Regions from separate parts of the Homo sapiens genome. Here region 2 is linked to region 1. The links come from fine-mapping of genetic effects on gene expression. Tissue or cell type: hypothalamus. Region 1 holds a variant in brackets; the other region holds the start of a gene. All regions are shown on one strand. Distances are from middle to middle.

Region 1 (8,103 bases):
TGGGAATTCAGGCCCACCTGACCATCATTAATATCAACACAGACTTTAAGACTGACAAAGCCAGGCCAGGTGTGGTGGCTCATGGCTGTAATCCCAGCACTTTGAGAGGCCATGGCGGGTGGATCACTTGAGGTCAGGAGTTTGAGACCAGCCTGACCAACATGGTGAAAACCCATCCCTACTAAAAATACAAAAATTAGCTGGGCATGGTGGCGGGCGCCTGTAATCCAAGCTACTCGGGAGGCTGAGGCAGGAGAATTGCTTAAACCTAGGAGGCGGAGGTTGCAGTGAGCCAAGATTGCACCACTGCATTCCAGCCTGGGTGACAGAGCGAGACTCCATCTCAAAATAACAACAACAATAAAAGACTGACAAAGCTGACTCTTTGTAGCAATGATACCAAATTCTAGCCTGTTTCTAGTAGAGCATTATGTGACTGATCAAGGCCCTGAAGGAAATTGAAGTATTTTACCCCAAATTATATTTCCTTGCTGTATCTTAAAACAATCCTGCAAGGCTGCCTATTGTGGGGGAAATCCACATTCTGAAGATAGTATCCTTGCTTTGCTAGGCCTTTTTCCTGATCCAGGAGAGAATCAACTCTGATAATAAATAAATAAACAAAGAAAAAAACAAAAACCATTTACAGGCCGGGCGCGGTGGCTCACTCCTGTAATCCCAACACTTTGGGAGGCTGAGGCAGGCGGATCACCTGAGGTCAGGAGTTCAAGACCAGCCTGGCCAACATGGTGAAACCCCGTCTTAACTAAAAATACAAAAATTAGCCAGGTGGGGTGGTGGGCGCCCGTGATCCCAGCTACTTGGAGGCTAGGGCAGGAGCTTCAACCCAGGAGGCAGAAGTTGCACTGAGCTGAAATTGCACCATTACACTCCAGCCTGGGCAACAGAGGGAGGCTCCATCTCAAAAAAAAAAAAAAAAAAAAAAAAAAAAAAAAAAGAACTTCCAGGGGCTAATTTTGAAGGAAACCAGGCTCAGAGACCCAGATGTGGATCCTACTGCTCTGGGGCAGTTAGGAAGAGTGAGCCCACCACTACTGGGCCAAAGTCAGGATGATGCAAGCTGGACCTTCAGACAGGGTGTTACTCGAGATCACCTTCGGAACAAGACATGCAGCCCTGCACCCCCCTGCACCCCCTTGCACCCTTCTGCATCCTCCTGCACCACCCCCACATGTTTCCCACACCAAGTTTTCCTTCCAAAACCTCTCACTCAGCCCAGAAGACAGAGGGTCTCTTGGAGGCATGAGCCCAGCCATGTCCCATCGGCTGGCATTTGTTTAATAAACGGCTTTCCTTCCACCACACCTCGCTTCTCATGTTTTTGGTCTTTGAGCAGCCACGCTTGAGCTGGTTGCAGATCTGGTGCCTTGTGTGAGGCACTGTGTTGTGAGTGGCTCAGCCTGTGTACCTGGTTTCCAATGAAGGCAGAGATTGGCCACAGCAGTCCCAGGATTTACCCACTCTTGCTGTCAGGCAGGACAGCAGCTGCTTGAAAATGCCAGCTGCTCATGGCCAGCTGACCCCAAGGCTAGGACCTTAGGGAATTCCTAGTGGCTGCCGAGACTGCCTTTGTCTTGGGGATTTTCCCTTCCCTCTCCTTCATGACATCAGCATCTCTCATGCTCTGCTGGTGGGAGGGAAGCAGTATGTGGGATGTGAACTGAAGTGCACCTGGAAATCCTCTGCATCTGCCATCTGGGGCTCTAGCTGTCTAGAGCTAGTATTGGTAGTCTGTGGTGCCACCTGGGTCTCTGTGCCATCTGGACCTAACGCAGGTAACTCTGTGGTGCCGCCTGGGTCTCTGTGCCATCTCGACCTAACGCAGGTCGCTCTGTGGTGCCGCCTGGGTCTCTGTGCCATCTGGACCTAACACAGGTCACTCTGTGGTGCCGCCTGGGTCTCTGTGCCATCTGGACCTAACGCAGGTCACTCTGTGGTGCTGCCTGGGTCTCTGTGCCATCTGGACCTAACGCAGGTCACTCCATGGTGCTGTCTGGGTCTGGGACAGGACCTCAGGACTTTGCTCCAATCTCCCCTCTGTTTGGAGGGATCTGTTTGGAGGGCTGTGTCTACATTGGATCTATTTGTGTTTGTGTCTCTGTTTAGTGTTGCACCCCCCTCTGAGGGTGCTTAGGCACAGTCTGCATCCCAATGGCCAAGACTAGGTCCATCTGGTTGTCAGAAAGTAGCAAGATAGGCTGCCCCTCTCCTCACTAGGTGTATTTGTACATTTTCACACTGCTGATAAAAACATACCTGAGACTAAGAAGAAAAAGAGGTTTAATTGGGCTTACAGTTCCACATGGCTGGGGAGGCCTCAGAATCATGACGGGAGGTGAAAGGCACTTCTTACAAGGCGGTGGCAAGAGAAAATGAAGAAGATGCAAAAGCAGAAACCCCTGATAAAACCATCAGATCTCATGAGACTTATTCACTACCTTGAGAACGGTGTGGGGGAAACTGCCCCCATGATTCAAATTACCTCCCACCTTCTCCCTCCCACAACCTGTGGGAATTATGGGAGTACAATTCAAGATGAGATTTGTGCTGTTATGACCGTCCTTGAAGATTTCCCTGAACCAGTTAACATTGTCTCTGATTCAGCGTAGGTACTACATGTTGCTCACAACAATTGAAACTGCCTTAATCCAATTTCTGCCTGATGATGACCTATTCTTTCTTTTTCAAAGGTTTCAGTCTGTGCCCAGAGCAAGGTCTTCTCCTTTCTACATTACTCACATTTGGGCCCACACACCCCTCCCCGGACCCCTCTCGCAGCAAATGCTAGAGCTGATACATTAGTTACTCCCGTTTTTACAGATGCAGGTGGAGGAGTAGAGTCTTCTCTAAACTCCCCCGGGGAAAGGGAGACTCCCTTTCCCGGTCTGCTAAGTAGCAGGTGTTTTTCCTTGACACTGACGCTACCACTAGACCACGGTCTGCTTGGCAACGGGCATCTTCCCAGACGCTGGTGTTACCGCTAGACCAAGGAGCCCTCTGGTGGCCCTGTCCGGGCATAACAGAAGGCTCGCACTTGTCTTCTGGTCACTTCTCACCATGTCCCCTCAGCTCCCATCTCTATATGGCCTGCTTTTTCCTAGGTTATGATTATAGAGCGAGGATTATTATAATATTGGAATAAAGAGTAATTGCTACAAACTAATGATTAATGATATTCATATATAATCATGTCTATGATCTAGATCTAGCATAACTCTTGTTGTTTTATATATTTTATTATACTGGAACAGCTCGTGCCCTCAGTCTCTTGCCTC[G/A]GCACCTGGGTGGCTTGCTGCCCACATCTCCCCCCTTTATATTAACTAGGATCACCATCGCCATCATTGCTTGTCATTGACTTCGGACTTGTTTTCGGACTCCTTGGAGGCATCTGCAGACTAAACGGAGACAACATAAGCATACCAATACTAATAATGCCAGTGACAACAATGATCCTCCAAGGGGTTTGATCCATTTAAAGGGATTAAGATCAGATAATTCTTTAGTTATTCCTTCAAAAATGTCTGAGCCAGGAACAGTGGATGAATGAGCTTGTGAAGCCTCAAAAATTTGCTCTTTAAGTTTTGAAATATCCAAGGTTAAGTTATCATCCCAGGCTTTTAAATGTCTTGAGACCTTTTCCCAGCTATGTTGACCTTTATTATAAGCATAAGGCATTATGCAATAGTCAGAAGTATTCCAATCACACTGTAATTGCATAAGGTGTTCCAAATTCATAACTCTGTCTCTGAGCCACATTACACTTTGACGGAGATCATTAATTTGATTGGCTAATTTTTTATCAATTTGAGCCTGAGAATTCCAAAGTCCGGAGGAGTTTTTCTGCCGTGCTTTAACATATTGAGCGGTTTGAACATAATTGTAGATGGCAACTCCAGCAGCTGCTGCTGCTGCAGTAACTGCAATTAGACCTGCAATGACGGCAATAAGAGTAAAAATAAATCTCTTTGTTCTTTTGAGGATAACTTTAAGAACTTCATTGACTATGTGAATAGAGGGGGAAGACTCCCAAGGACGATGTAGAGAAACTGGTATCCATACCTCCTCCCTAGCCCGTACCAAGAGAATACTTGTAGTGGGAATGAAAGTAGCATCAATGCATGTGAACAGCTGACAGTTATCACATTCTACAGTTTGTGTACTGGGAATGATAATTATATTTCCAACCAACAGCATGTAAGGGGGTTTGACACAGCTCCTGATGGGTATCACCTGTTCAGATATCAAGGTGATGTTGAATGTGTGTGTTTTGGTATTAGTGTGAAGGAGTTGATAGGTAGTGTTCCGTATCCTTATTCCTGTCATAGCTGCAGCAATTTCCATAATTCAGGATGTTCTGGGGTAACAATGGGATGAATCATTTTTGGTGTAGGGGGAACAATGCCTGCGTCCATCCATTTAAATGGGTAAGGAGACACCCATTGTCTCAACCTGTATGACTGCCATCCATCCTCTATATGATCTTTTTTCTTTTCTTTCTTTTTTTTTTTGAGATGGAGTCTTGCTTTGTTGCCCAGGCTGGAGTGCAGTGGCGCGATCTTGGCTCACTGCAAGCTCTGCCTCCTGGGTTTACGCCATTCTCCTACCTCAGCCTCCCGAGTAGCTGGGACTACAGGCGCCTGCCACCACGCCCAGCTAATTTTTTGTTTTTTAGTAGAGACGGGTTTTCACTGTGTTAGCCAGGATGATCTTGATCTCCTGACCTTGTGATCCACCCGCCTCGGCCTCCCAAAGTGCTGGGATTACAGGCATGAGCCACTGTGCCCGGCCCATCCTCTATATAATCTAACAAATAGTTAAACTCCGAGCATTTTGTATTTTGGGTGGAGCAATTTCGCCAATAATGCCCTTTTGGAGCCCAGTCAATAACAACACCCGTAGGTAGGGTTTGGAACAGTATGGCCTTCGGAGTATTAGAATCATTTCATAAGATTGAATTTAGTTAAAAAAAGAAAAAAGGCCCCTTTGTAGGTTTCTTGGAGCAGGCTGGCAGTCCTTTTGTTTCTCAGAGTGCCTCATCCTTGGAGTTATAATGCAATTTCAGTCGCTGGGAGGGAACCCACGCGGGTTGTTGTCCTTTTCCTGGGGAAACACAAGCGAAAGCCCTAGCCCAAGTTATGACTCTGTCTAATTCCCATTTGTTAGTTTTTGCGTCCTTTCACCATACCCGCATTCGTTTTTGTGGATCAAATTTATTTCCAGTGACATGTGGTTCTGTGGCTGTAAAGTTTGGTTTCTTGCTGGGTGTAAGAAAGCTCGTGTAAAAAGAGGCAGGTTTAACTGAGCATGAGGTGTGGTGCCATCCCCCTTTGTTTTATGTCCTGCTTTCGAAGTTGACCTTTCAGTGTTTTATTGGCTCGTTCCACCGAGGCCTGTCCTCGAGAGTTACAGGGGATGCTGGTTGTGTGAGCAATTGCCCACGTCTCAGTGAACTTTTTAAAAGCAGCACTAGTGTAGCTGGGGCTGTTATCAGTTTTCAGTTTCTCGGGACAGCCCATAACGGAGAAACAGGAACGCATATGTCGTTTACCATGAGCTGTACTTTCCCCTGCGTGACAAGTGGCCCAGATAAAATGAGAAAAAGTGTCGATAGTTACATGTATAAAAGAAAGCTTGCCAAAAGCAGGATAATGAGTCACGTCCATTTGCCAGAGAGCATTCTGTGAAAGTCCTCTAGGGTTAACTCCTGAGGAAAGTGGCTGTAAGATTAACACTTGGCAAGTAGGACGGTGACGAACAATGGTTTTAGCTTGTTTCCATGTAAGGGGAACTTTTTCCGGAGTCCTGCAGCATTGACAGGTGTTAAAGCATGAAAATTTTCTGCATCTGTAAAAACGGGAGGAACTAATGTATGAGCTCTGGCATTTGCTGCCGAGAGGGGTCTGGGGAGGGGTGTGTGGGCCCGAATGTGAGCAATGTAGAAAGGAGAAGACCTTGCTCTGGGCACAGACTGAAACCTTTGAAAAAGAAAGAATAGGTTATCATCGGGCAGAAATTGGATTAAGGCAGTTTCAATGTTGCGAGCAACATGTACTACATACGCTGAGTCAGAGACAATGTTAACTGGTTCAGGGAAATCTTCAAAGACGGTCATAACAGCAGGCAGTTCAGCTCGTTGTGCTGAAATAGCCCCTGTGTTAAGAACACGTTCTCTGGGACCTGTATATGCTGCTCGGCCATTACAGGAAGCATCAGTAAAAACAGTGACAGCTTCAGCTAATGGGGTGTTTCTAGTAATGTTAGGTAAAATCCAAGAAGTGAGTTTAAGGAACTGAAATAATTTTACATTAGGATAGTGATTGTCAATTATACCCGAGAAACCTGCCAAGTGTACTTGCCAAGTGATACAGGTTGCAAAAGCCTGTTGAACTTCTAATCGGGTGAGGGGAACAATGATTTTTTTGGGCTTAATAACCTGACTTCTAGCTGCATTGCTAAATAGTGATAAGGAGAAGAAGTCTGGATTTTTTTTTTGTGGAGGGGGCGCAGTAACCAAACCGGCTGCTGCAACTGTTTGTTGTCCTGCAGAAAAACAAGATATTAACACGGAGCGTGAAGGTGCCGCGAGATCAGCTGCCTGCTGAGTAAGATCAGCAGGCTGTGGCTGATTTTGTGCCGCAGGGACGGCAGGTATTGGAGGTTGTAAAATTACAGGAAATTGCCAGGCGTTGGGATCCCCATATTTTCTTGCCTGTGCTATAGCCCTCATAAGAGGAGTGTCATTTTGAGGAATCTATGTAACTTGTTGCTTGTGAGCAGCAAGGGTAGACGAGATTACCTGCCGAGCACGTCCTTCATGGGCCTGAAATTCAGGCTGCTGTGGCAACTGCGGACCAGGCTTCAAAGGAGTCTGTGACTCCAGGGGAGTCGGATTAGTAGGAAAGGAACCAGGTTTCAAGGGAGCCTGTGACTCTAACCGAGTCTGATTAGGAGGAAAGGAAACAGGCATGAGAAAACCAGGCTATGGAGGGATAGGGTTGAGGGCCTCATTACCGGGCGGAACAGGCAGAAGGTTGAGACCCCTACAGCAGGGCTGAACAGGGACAGGGTTGAGATAAAACAGGAGGGTTTTTATAAAGCTTAAATAAGCTGAGTACTTAGTACTGGCTTGTCCCATGGTGTCCCCGGAATACTCTGAGTGCTCTAGCTTACCACCAAGCTTACTGACCACAATCCTCAGGAATCTCTGGTCAAAATCCTCTGCTGAATCCCACACTCAGGGTGCAACTTCACACAGCGAGAGAGAGCCCCACGTTGGAGCGCCGGATGTAGGGACCAGCCCCACAGTGTTGGTGCGTTCTGCTCCCCATGTGCGGAGATGAGAGATTGTAGAAATAAAGACACAAGACAAAGAGATAAAAAGAAAAGACAGCTGGGCCTGGGGGACCACCACCACCAAGACGCGGAGACCGGTAGTGGCCCCGAATGCCTGGCTGCACTGTTATTTATTGGATACAAACCAAAAGGGACAGGGTAAAGAGTGTGAGTCATCTCCAATGATAGGTAAGGTCATGTGGGTCACATGTCCACTGGACAGGGGGCCCTTTCCTGCCTGGCAGCCGAGGCAGAGAGAGAGGGGGAGAGAGAGAGAGAGACAGCTTACGCCATTATTTCTGCTTATCATAGACTTTTAGTACTTTCACTAATTTGCTACTGTTATCTAAAAGGCAAAGCCAGGTGTGCAGGATGGAACATGAAGGCGGACTAGGAGCGTGACCACTGAAGCACAGCATCACAGGGAGACGGTTAGGCCTCCGGATAACTGCGGGCGAGCCTAACTGATGTCAGGCCCTCCACAAGAGGTGGAGGAGCAGAGTCTTCTCTAAACTCCCCCAGGGAAAGGGAGACTCCTAAGTAGCAGGTGTTTTTCCTTGACACTGATGCTACTGCTAGACCACGGTCTGCCTGGCAACGGGCATCTTCCCAGACGCTGGTGTTACCGCTAGACCAAGGAGCCCTCTGGTGACCCTGTCTGGGCATAACAGAAGGCTCGCACTATCGTCTTCTGGTCACTTCTCACCATGTCCCCTCAGCCCCCATCTCTGTATGGCCTGGTTTTTCCTA
Region 2 (8,093 bases), 180 kb before region 1:
CAGAAGAAATTTCTAAGCGGCAAAGCATTTGAGATGTGAGCTGGCTTTTTCTGAAAGTGTACAGTCATGTGCGTTCACAAGGAGATGATCTGAAATTGGAACTTATGTTTAAAAGCAAAGCAGGACATAAAAGTTTGGAAAATTTGCAGCCTGACTATGTGGTAGAAAACCCATTGTCTGGGGGAGAAATTCAAGCCATCAGCTGTAGAAATGTCTCCAAGACATTTCAGAGAGCTTCACGGCAGACCCTCCCATCACAGGCCCAGAGGCCTTGGGGGCAAAATCAGCTCCAGTCAGGGCCAAAAGGGGTCAAGGGACAGCCCAGGCGGAGCCCGTAGGTGTGCAGAAGACAAGAGGTGAACTTCGGGAGACTCTGCCTAGATTTCAGAGGATGTATGGAAACACCTAGAAGTCCAGGCTGAAGTCTGCTGCAGGGGCAGAGCCCTCATGGAGAACCTCTGCTAGGGCAATGCAGAGGGGAAATGTGGGGTGGGAGCCTCCACACACGGAGTCCCCACTGGGGCACTTGTAGGGACCAGCCCTACAGGGTCAGTGGGTCTTTCTCCCCATGTGCAGAGATGAGAGATCGTAGAAATAAAGACACAAGAGAAAGAGATAGAAGAAAAGACAGCTGGGCCCTGGGGGACCACTATTACCAAGGCGCGGAGACCGGTAGCAGCCCCGAATGCCTGGCTGCGCTGTTATTTATTGGGTACAAGACAAGGGGGCAGGGTAAGGAGTGTGACTCATCTCCAATGATAGGTAAGGTCACGTGGTTCACATGTCCACTGGACAGGGGGCCCTTCCCCGTTTGGCAGCTGAGGCGGAGAGAGAGAGGAGAGACAGCTTACGCCATTATTTCCGCATATCAGAGACTTCTGGTACTTCCACTAATTTTGCACCTGCTATCTAAAAGGCAGAGCCAGGTGTACAGGATGGAACATGAAAGCGGACCAGGAGCATGACCACTGAAGCACAGCATCACAGGGAGACAGGCCTCCAGATAACTGTGGGCAAGCCTGACTAATGTCAGGCCCTCCACAAGAGGTGGAGGAGTAGAGTCTTCTCTAAACTCCCCTGGGGAAAGGGAGACTCCTTTTCCTGGTCTGCTCAGTAGTGGGTGCTTTTCCCTTGGCACTGACGCTGCCACTAGACCACGGTCCGCTTGGTAACAGGCGTCTTCCCAGACGCTGGTGTTACCGCTAGACCAAGGAGCCCTCTGGTGGCCCTGTCCGGGCATAACAGAAGGCTCGCACTTGTCTTCTGGTCACTTCTCACCATGTCCCCTCAGCTCCCATCTCTGTACGGCCTGGTTTTTTCTAGGTTATGATTGTAGAGCGAGGATTATTATAATATTGGAATAAAGAGCAATTACTACAAATTAATGATTAATGATATTTACATATAATCATATCTATGATCTAGATCTAGTATAACTCTTGTTATTTTATATATCTTATTACACCGGAACAGCTCGTGCCCTCGGTCTCTTGCCTCAGCACCGGGGTGGCTTGCTGCCCACAGGCACTGACTAGTGGAGCTACGAGAAGGGGGACACTGTCCTCCAGACCCCAGAATGGTAGATCTACCAGCAGCTTGCACCCTGCACCTGGAAAAGCCGTAGGCACTCAGGGGCAGAGCTTCCCAAGGCCTTGGAAGCCCACCCCTTGCATCAGTGTGGCCCTGGATGTGAGACATGCAGTCAAAGGAGATTATTTTGGAGCTGTAAGATATAATGACTAACCCACTAGATTTTGGACTTGCATGGGGCTTTTAGCCCCTTTGTTTTGGCCAAATTCTCCCTTTTGGAATGGGACCATTTACCGAGTGCCAGTACCTCCATTATACCTTGGAAGTAACTAACTTGTTTTTGATTTTACAGGTTCATAGGCAGAAGGGACTTTGTCTCAGATGAGACTTTGGACTGTGGACTTTTGAGTTAATGCTGAAATAAGACTTTGGGGGACTGTTGGGAGGGCATGATTGGTTTTGAAATGTAAAAAGGACATGAGATTTAGGAGGGGCCGGGGTAGAATGATATGGTTTAGCTGTGTCCCCACCCAAATCTCATCTCGAATTGTAATCCCCACATGTCGAGGGAGGGACCTGGTGGGAGGTGATTGGAGCATGGGGGCGATTTCCCCCGTGCTGTTCTTGTCATAGTTCTCACAAGATCTGATGGTTTAAGTGTGGCACATCCCACTACCCCCGCCGCCATGTAAGACGTGCCTTGCTTCCCCTTTGCCTTCCGCCATGATTGTAAGTTTCCTAAGGTCTCCCCAGTCATGTGTAACTGTGAGTCAATGAAACCTCTTTTCTTTATAAATTACCCAGCTTCAGGTAAGTTCTTCATATTAATAGCAGTGGGAAAACAAACAAACACAGTGACCTTATTTGATCAAACATGATGATGATCGACTAAAGATGAGGTCACTAGGGTGGTCCCTAATCCAACAGGGATGTTGCAGAAGAGACCCACCTGGAGAAGGTCGTGTGAAGATGGAGGCAGGGATGGGAGCAGTGCATGAGCAAGCCCAGGACACCAAGCAGGCCTGGCAGAGCAAGACATGCGTCAACCCTCAGGGCTGCAGAGGGAGCATGGCCCTGCACACTCCTTGATTTTGCACTTCTGGCCTCCAGGGCTATGAGGAAACACGTTTCTGTTGTTTTTAAAACAGTTGTTGTTTTTAAAACCAGTTTGTGATGCATTGTGACAGAAGCCCCAGGAAACTCATCCATACTGAGTGAAATTTGTTTATTGTCTAAAATACAGTCCCTCCATCATCTATCCCTCCTATCATTTCTGGAATTTATAGACATCCAAGTCACTCCCCATATCCACAGAAGGCTCAGGCACCTGGTTCAGAATCCTCATTGTCCTGCCAGCTCCCACCAGCAGTCTGCAGCCTCGGCCCCAGCCAGTGTCACTTCATCCCATTCCCTGGACATCTGGTTCCAGGACCACAGCTCCATCCTTGGCGTGGTCCAGAACTTGCTCCTACCTCTCTCCCCCATTCTCCCTCTTTCTCCCCCCCATTCTCTCTCCCTCTCTTTCTCATTCTCCCTTCTCCTCCCTCTTTCTCCCTCCCTCTCTCTGGAATCTCTGGTTCCAGTTGCCCATCACTGACTACAGCTTGCAGCTGTCCAGGTATTTCTCATCTACATCCACTCAGCTCCCTCCCGGCCTCTGTTCTTCCTCCCTCAGGGGTATTCTCCCACTCACCAGCACCTGTTGGATCCGCGGCCATTTCTAACCGGACTGGATACTTGGACCTCAAGGTCCCCGCTGGTAAGATAGCTGGGAGACACTCGTCTGTAGGTCCCTCTGGCAGGTCTTGCTGGGCGTGCCAAGAACACATTGCCCTGACCACTCTTTTCTGGGCCATTTCTCACGCCTGTGCTTGCAGTGGGCACCCTTGCCGGGGAGACAGCCTCCCTGTGGGACAAAGACCACATTGGTCCACAGGATCCAGGGTCCTGTTTTGTAGTGCACCCGCTGTGGTGCAACATGCGTCTGGGCACACCAGCGTCGCCCGTTTCCTGTTGTAGTCTTTCCTCTCTGACTCCAGGGGTATTGGGTCTTTCTGCCAGCGCCCATGCAACTTTGGCAGCCTGGCCTGTCTGCTGGCAAGTGGGGCAGAATCCCTGCACTCCACCATTCTTGGGCAACACTCCCTCTAGGATTTTGGCCTCCCTTTTCTCTCTGGTCTTTGACCACCGCTACCCAGCAAACTCCTCCATCTAGACCAGCCAGCATTGGTTTCTTCCACTCCCCCAGCTGCCGCGTGGGAGGCGCCACTGCAAACTTCCCTGGGGTCTCCCAGCTGCTCAGAGATCCCCATGCCCTTCCCTGATCAGCTCCCTGCCCGGTTCTCATCCCGGCGATTCTAAACCGTCCATCTTTACAAATACTCCGCTCCATCCCCACTCCCTGACTGAAGTAAACAGATGTATCCTGAACTCCTCATTCTCCCCCCATCTCACTCTCCTCGCCTGTGTGCACCTCGCCTCGTGTGTCTTCCTCACCTCCGAGCAGAGGGATCTGTCCTCCTGCCCGAAGGTAACCCTGACCCCTGGACTCTGCGCCTCCTTCCCGCAGCCTCCACCAGATTGCGGGTCCGTTCACCGCCCCCCTCCACACGCGCTGGGGGCACCTCCGGGAGCTGGGGCTAGCGCAGGGCACACACATGTTCCACCTCGAACTGCGAGCGCTGACCGGGATCTCTGGGCAGCCCTCTCTGTGTGCACTGGCTTGCTGAAGGCTCGCGACAGCCTGGGCCCGGGCGCGCATTCCAGCACTTTCTACCCTCCGGCTTCAGAGTGCATTGCTCTGTGGATCCGTCACGAATAAGCCGTGTGTGAAGAACGCCAGGTCCCGGCAGAAGATCGCTGCCCGGCGTGCGAACTCCCCCACGGTGCACCAGGGCCGCCGCCCTGCATCCTCCAACCTCAGCTCCCCGGCACCGCGACCCTCCGTGCAGTGCGAGCCCCCGATGGGCGCGCGCCCCCACCTGCGCTCCAGAAGGCCGAAGGGGGCATCCCACTTGCAGGGCGGGTCACCCGCTTTCCCCGCGGGCCAAGGGGCTCCAAGATTCCCAGCCCCTCCTTCCCAGCCGCTCCGCGACACCCTGGCAACCGGCTTCGGCCCCGCCCCTTCTCGTTGTGTAAACAGGAAGTGAGCCTGCGCGTGACGGTCGCTTCCGGCCCGGCGAGGGGCGGGAGCGATTGTGAACGGCGGCGGGGCAGAGCCAATCGCGGAAAACGGCAGGAGGAGAGCCAATCCCGAGGGTCGGCGGACGCGGGAAGGGGCGGAGCCAGAGGCGGGGCCGGCAAGGCGGAGCCAATCGCGGCGGTCCGCGGGGCGGGGCCGGGGGCGCGGCCGGGTGGTGGCGGTGGCTGCGGCGACGGCGGTCGCGTCGGCGTCAGGGTCGGGGTCGGTAAGGGGTGCGGCAATGCTGCAACTGCGGGACTCGGTGGACTCGGCCGGTACGAGCCCCACGGCGGTGCTGGCGGCCGGCGAGGAGGTGGGGGCAGGCGGCGGCCCGGGCGGGGGGCGGCCGGGGGCGGGGACGCCGCTGCGCCAGACACTCTGGCCTCTCAGCATCCACGACCCCACGCGCCGCGCCCGCGTCAAGGAGTACTTCGTGTTCCGGGTGAGGCAGGGGCCAGGGCCGGGGCGGGGGCCGAGGGCGCGGGGCGGGATGGGGGCGGGTGGGGTCGGAGGCGGGCGCCGGGCGGTCCCGCAGGGAGCGAGCTGTGACCTGTGATCTTTGCCCCCGTCCCCCACCCCGCAACCCGCCCAGCCCGGCAGCATCGAGCAGGCAGTGGAGGAGATCCGCGTGGTGGTGCGGCCCGTGGAGGACGGCGAGATCCAGGGAGTGTGGCTGCTTACCGAGTAAGCCGGGGCTGCGCTCTCCTTGGTGGGGGGACTCGCCCCGAGCCGCCGCGCAGCACCTTGCGAGGACTTCCCGGGGTGCTCGTGCCACGCTCAGGCGCCCCGTGCCGCCCCTGCTGCCCTTCCAGGCGGGCTGGCCTTGGCTAAGTCGAGACAGCCGCGTCCAGTGTGGACTGAGGCCCCTCCTCTGCCTACAGGGTGGATCACTGGAACAATGAGAAGGAGCGGCTGGTGCTGGTCACGGAGCAGTCCCTGCTTATCTGTAAATACGACTTCATCAGTCTCCAGTGCCAGCAGGTGGTGCGGATAGCGCTCAACGCAGTAGACACCATTTCCTACGGAGAATTCCAGTTTCCCCCTAAATCGCTCAACAAGTAAGCCTGTTCAGAGTCCAGTATCACTGGACCTAAGCACCAGAGTGGACCTTACAATTCAGCCCTTTTAAATCAGCCCCCCAAGCGGTGTGTCTTCTCTGTCATTAATTATAAGCACAAAGGCTCCAGCTCCAAATATCAATGGGAAGTTCCTTAAAAAGAAGCGACTTCTGGGCAATTGAGTGCATTAAAAGGAATTCTGGCACAGAAGGCAGCTATTAGGCTGGTAGTAAAAAGACTTACATGAGTTCAGGATGCATTGAAGTAGAGCCCAGCGTGTTAAAAAGGAACTTGGATGTTCTTCAGGAAAAGTCCAAACTCTGCATTTTTCTCCAGCCAGGGACAGATTGCATATGACACATCAAGTCTTGCTCTGGCTAATTTTTTAAAGAGAAATGGAGGGTCCCGTTGTAATTTATAGATACCACTAAAAGACAAATTTGGAAATATTTAATGACCAGCTTTCAGGAGTTGATCTTTTTGCTGTAGGATAATTTTCTGACGTGAGGAACCTAAACATTACTACAGTCAGTTAAGCTGTAGAACTTGGGTTTTTGATGGAGAGATTTGGATGGGGGATTCAGGAAGCTAAAATAAAAATTTTACCTTTTGGTTAAAACATTTAATATGACATAAGGAAAAGGAAGATTACACTTCCTTTTCACTCATTTGGCTAGCCTATCTATAATTATTCCCTTTTTTTTTTTTTTTTGAGACGGAGTCCCACTCTGTCACCCAGGCACCAGTGGTGCAGTCTTGGTTCACTGCATCCTCCACCTCCTAGGCTTAAGTGATCCTCTCACCTCAGCCTCCCAAGTAGCTAGGACTACAGGTGCCCGCCACCACACCCAGCTAATTTTTGTATTTTTTGTAGAGATGGGGTTTTGCTAGGTTGCCCAGGCTGTTCTCAAACTCCTGGGCTCAAGAGATCCGCCCATTTTGGCCTCCCAAAGCGCTGGGATTATAGATGTCAGCCACCGTGCCCAGCCAGTATTCCTGTTTATTAATTTTTAATCATGTAAAGATTACCAAAATAATACATTTAATAACCAAAATATACCTAATTTGTCATATTTATACCCACAGTATTTAAAGCAATTGTTAGTGGAGATTGAAGTTACTACTAAAAACCACAGGCCGGCCAGGCACGGTGGCTCACGCCTGTAATCCCAGCACCTTGGGAGGCTGAGGCGGGCGGATCACCTGAGGTCAGGAGTTTGAGACCAGCCTGACCAAAATGGATAAACCCTGTCTCTACTAAAAATACAAAATTAGCTGGGTGTGGTGGTGCATGCCTGTAATCCCAGCTACTCCGGAGGCTGAGTTGGGAGAATCGCTTGAACCCAGGAGGTGGAGGATGCAGCGAGCCAACATCAGGCCACTACACTCAAGCCTGGGCAACAAGAGCAAAACTCCATCTCAAAAAATAAAAATAAATAAAAACAAAAATAAAAACTACAAGCCGTTTTCCATTGTGATATGTCATAGGTCTTTTCTGTAAACGTGTGCTTTTTGCTGTCATATTCTCCTAACTGATGAGACTGTCAGATTGTCCATGAGAGCACTGTGGCCTGCCATGCTAAGTCTGGCTATTTCTTCTGACTTTTCAGGCGAGAAGGTTTTGGGATTCGAATTCAGTGGGACAAGCAAAGTCGTCCTTCCTTCATAAACAGATGGAATCCCTGGTCTACCAACGTGCCCTATGCCACTTTCACAGAACACCCGATGGCTGGCGCAGATGAGAAGACAGCATCTCTGTGTCAGGTAAGAAGACAGGCACATAAATAGCCGCGCCCCCCGCAGTGATGGAAACACCCCCCGCAGTCACGGAGACACTTCAGGTCTGCACTGTCCGGCGGCCACGCGGAGCTGCCGAGCACTTGAGACGTGGCTAGAAATGAGAGAGGAAGCTCTCATTTTAGAGTTGATTCCCTAAGTTGTCAGAAATTCTGGTTAATTTATGTTAAAGTAGCCGCATGTGGCCAGTGGCTGCTGGTTAGCATAGCTCCATAATGTGGCCTCCTGATGGTGATCTGGGTGGGGAAGGGCCCCAGCTGGGCTTCAGAGAGTGGCAGCAGACCCAGCCGTGCCAGATGACCAGTGCGGATGCGCACCAGGAGAGGAGGCCTCGGGGCTGGGGTTAGAGCAGAGCCCAGAGCCCAGAGCCTGGCGGGGGTCCTGCACTTCCCCAGCTGTGTGCCTCGGCCTGGTTACTGACCTGGTAGGTTGGGTGACGGCAAAGCCACTCAGCCCTGTATACAGGAAGGGTTCTGCAGGTGCTGGCTGCCATTGGCCACAGGAGAGCATGGTGGCAAGATTTCCAC

What was found. PIP is the estimated chance that this variant, and not a neighbour inherited with it, causes the effect.
Region 2: it holds the start of TPRG1L, and the variant in region 1 is fine-mapped to the expression of TPRG1L in hypothalamus (GTEx, PIP 0.98).

What each region holds. Positions count from the first base shown.
Region 1 is chr1:3,798,627-3,806,729 of GRCh38, forward strand. No RefSeq gene overlaps it. Among named protein-coding and RNA genes, the nearest start is that of LRRC47, 6.2 kb to the left of the region's middle. The variant G/A (reference allele first, on the strand shown) is at 3,297.
Region 2 is chr1:3,620,121-3,628,213 of GRCh38, forward strand. It overlaps TPRG1L (tumor protein p63 regulated 1 like), which reads left to right and starts at 4,895. Exons shown (of 5, transcript NM_182752.4): 1 at 4,895-5,153; 2 at 5,304-5,395; 3 at 5,593-5,769; 4 at 7,380-7,533. The coding sequence starts at 4,953. It also overlaps a transcript of MEGF6 not described here. RefSeq lists enhancers at 4,169-4,288, 5,269-5,931 and a silencer at 4,739-4,968.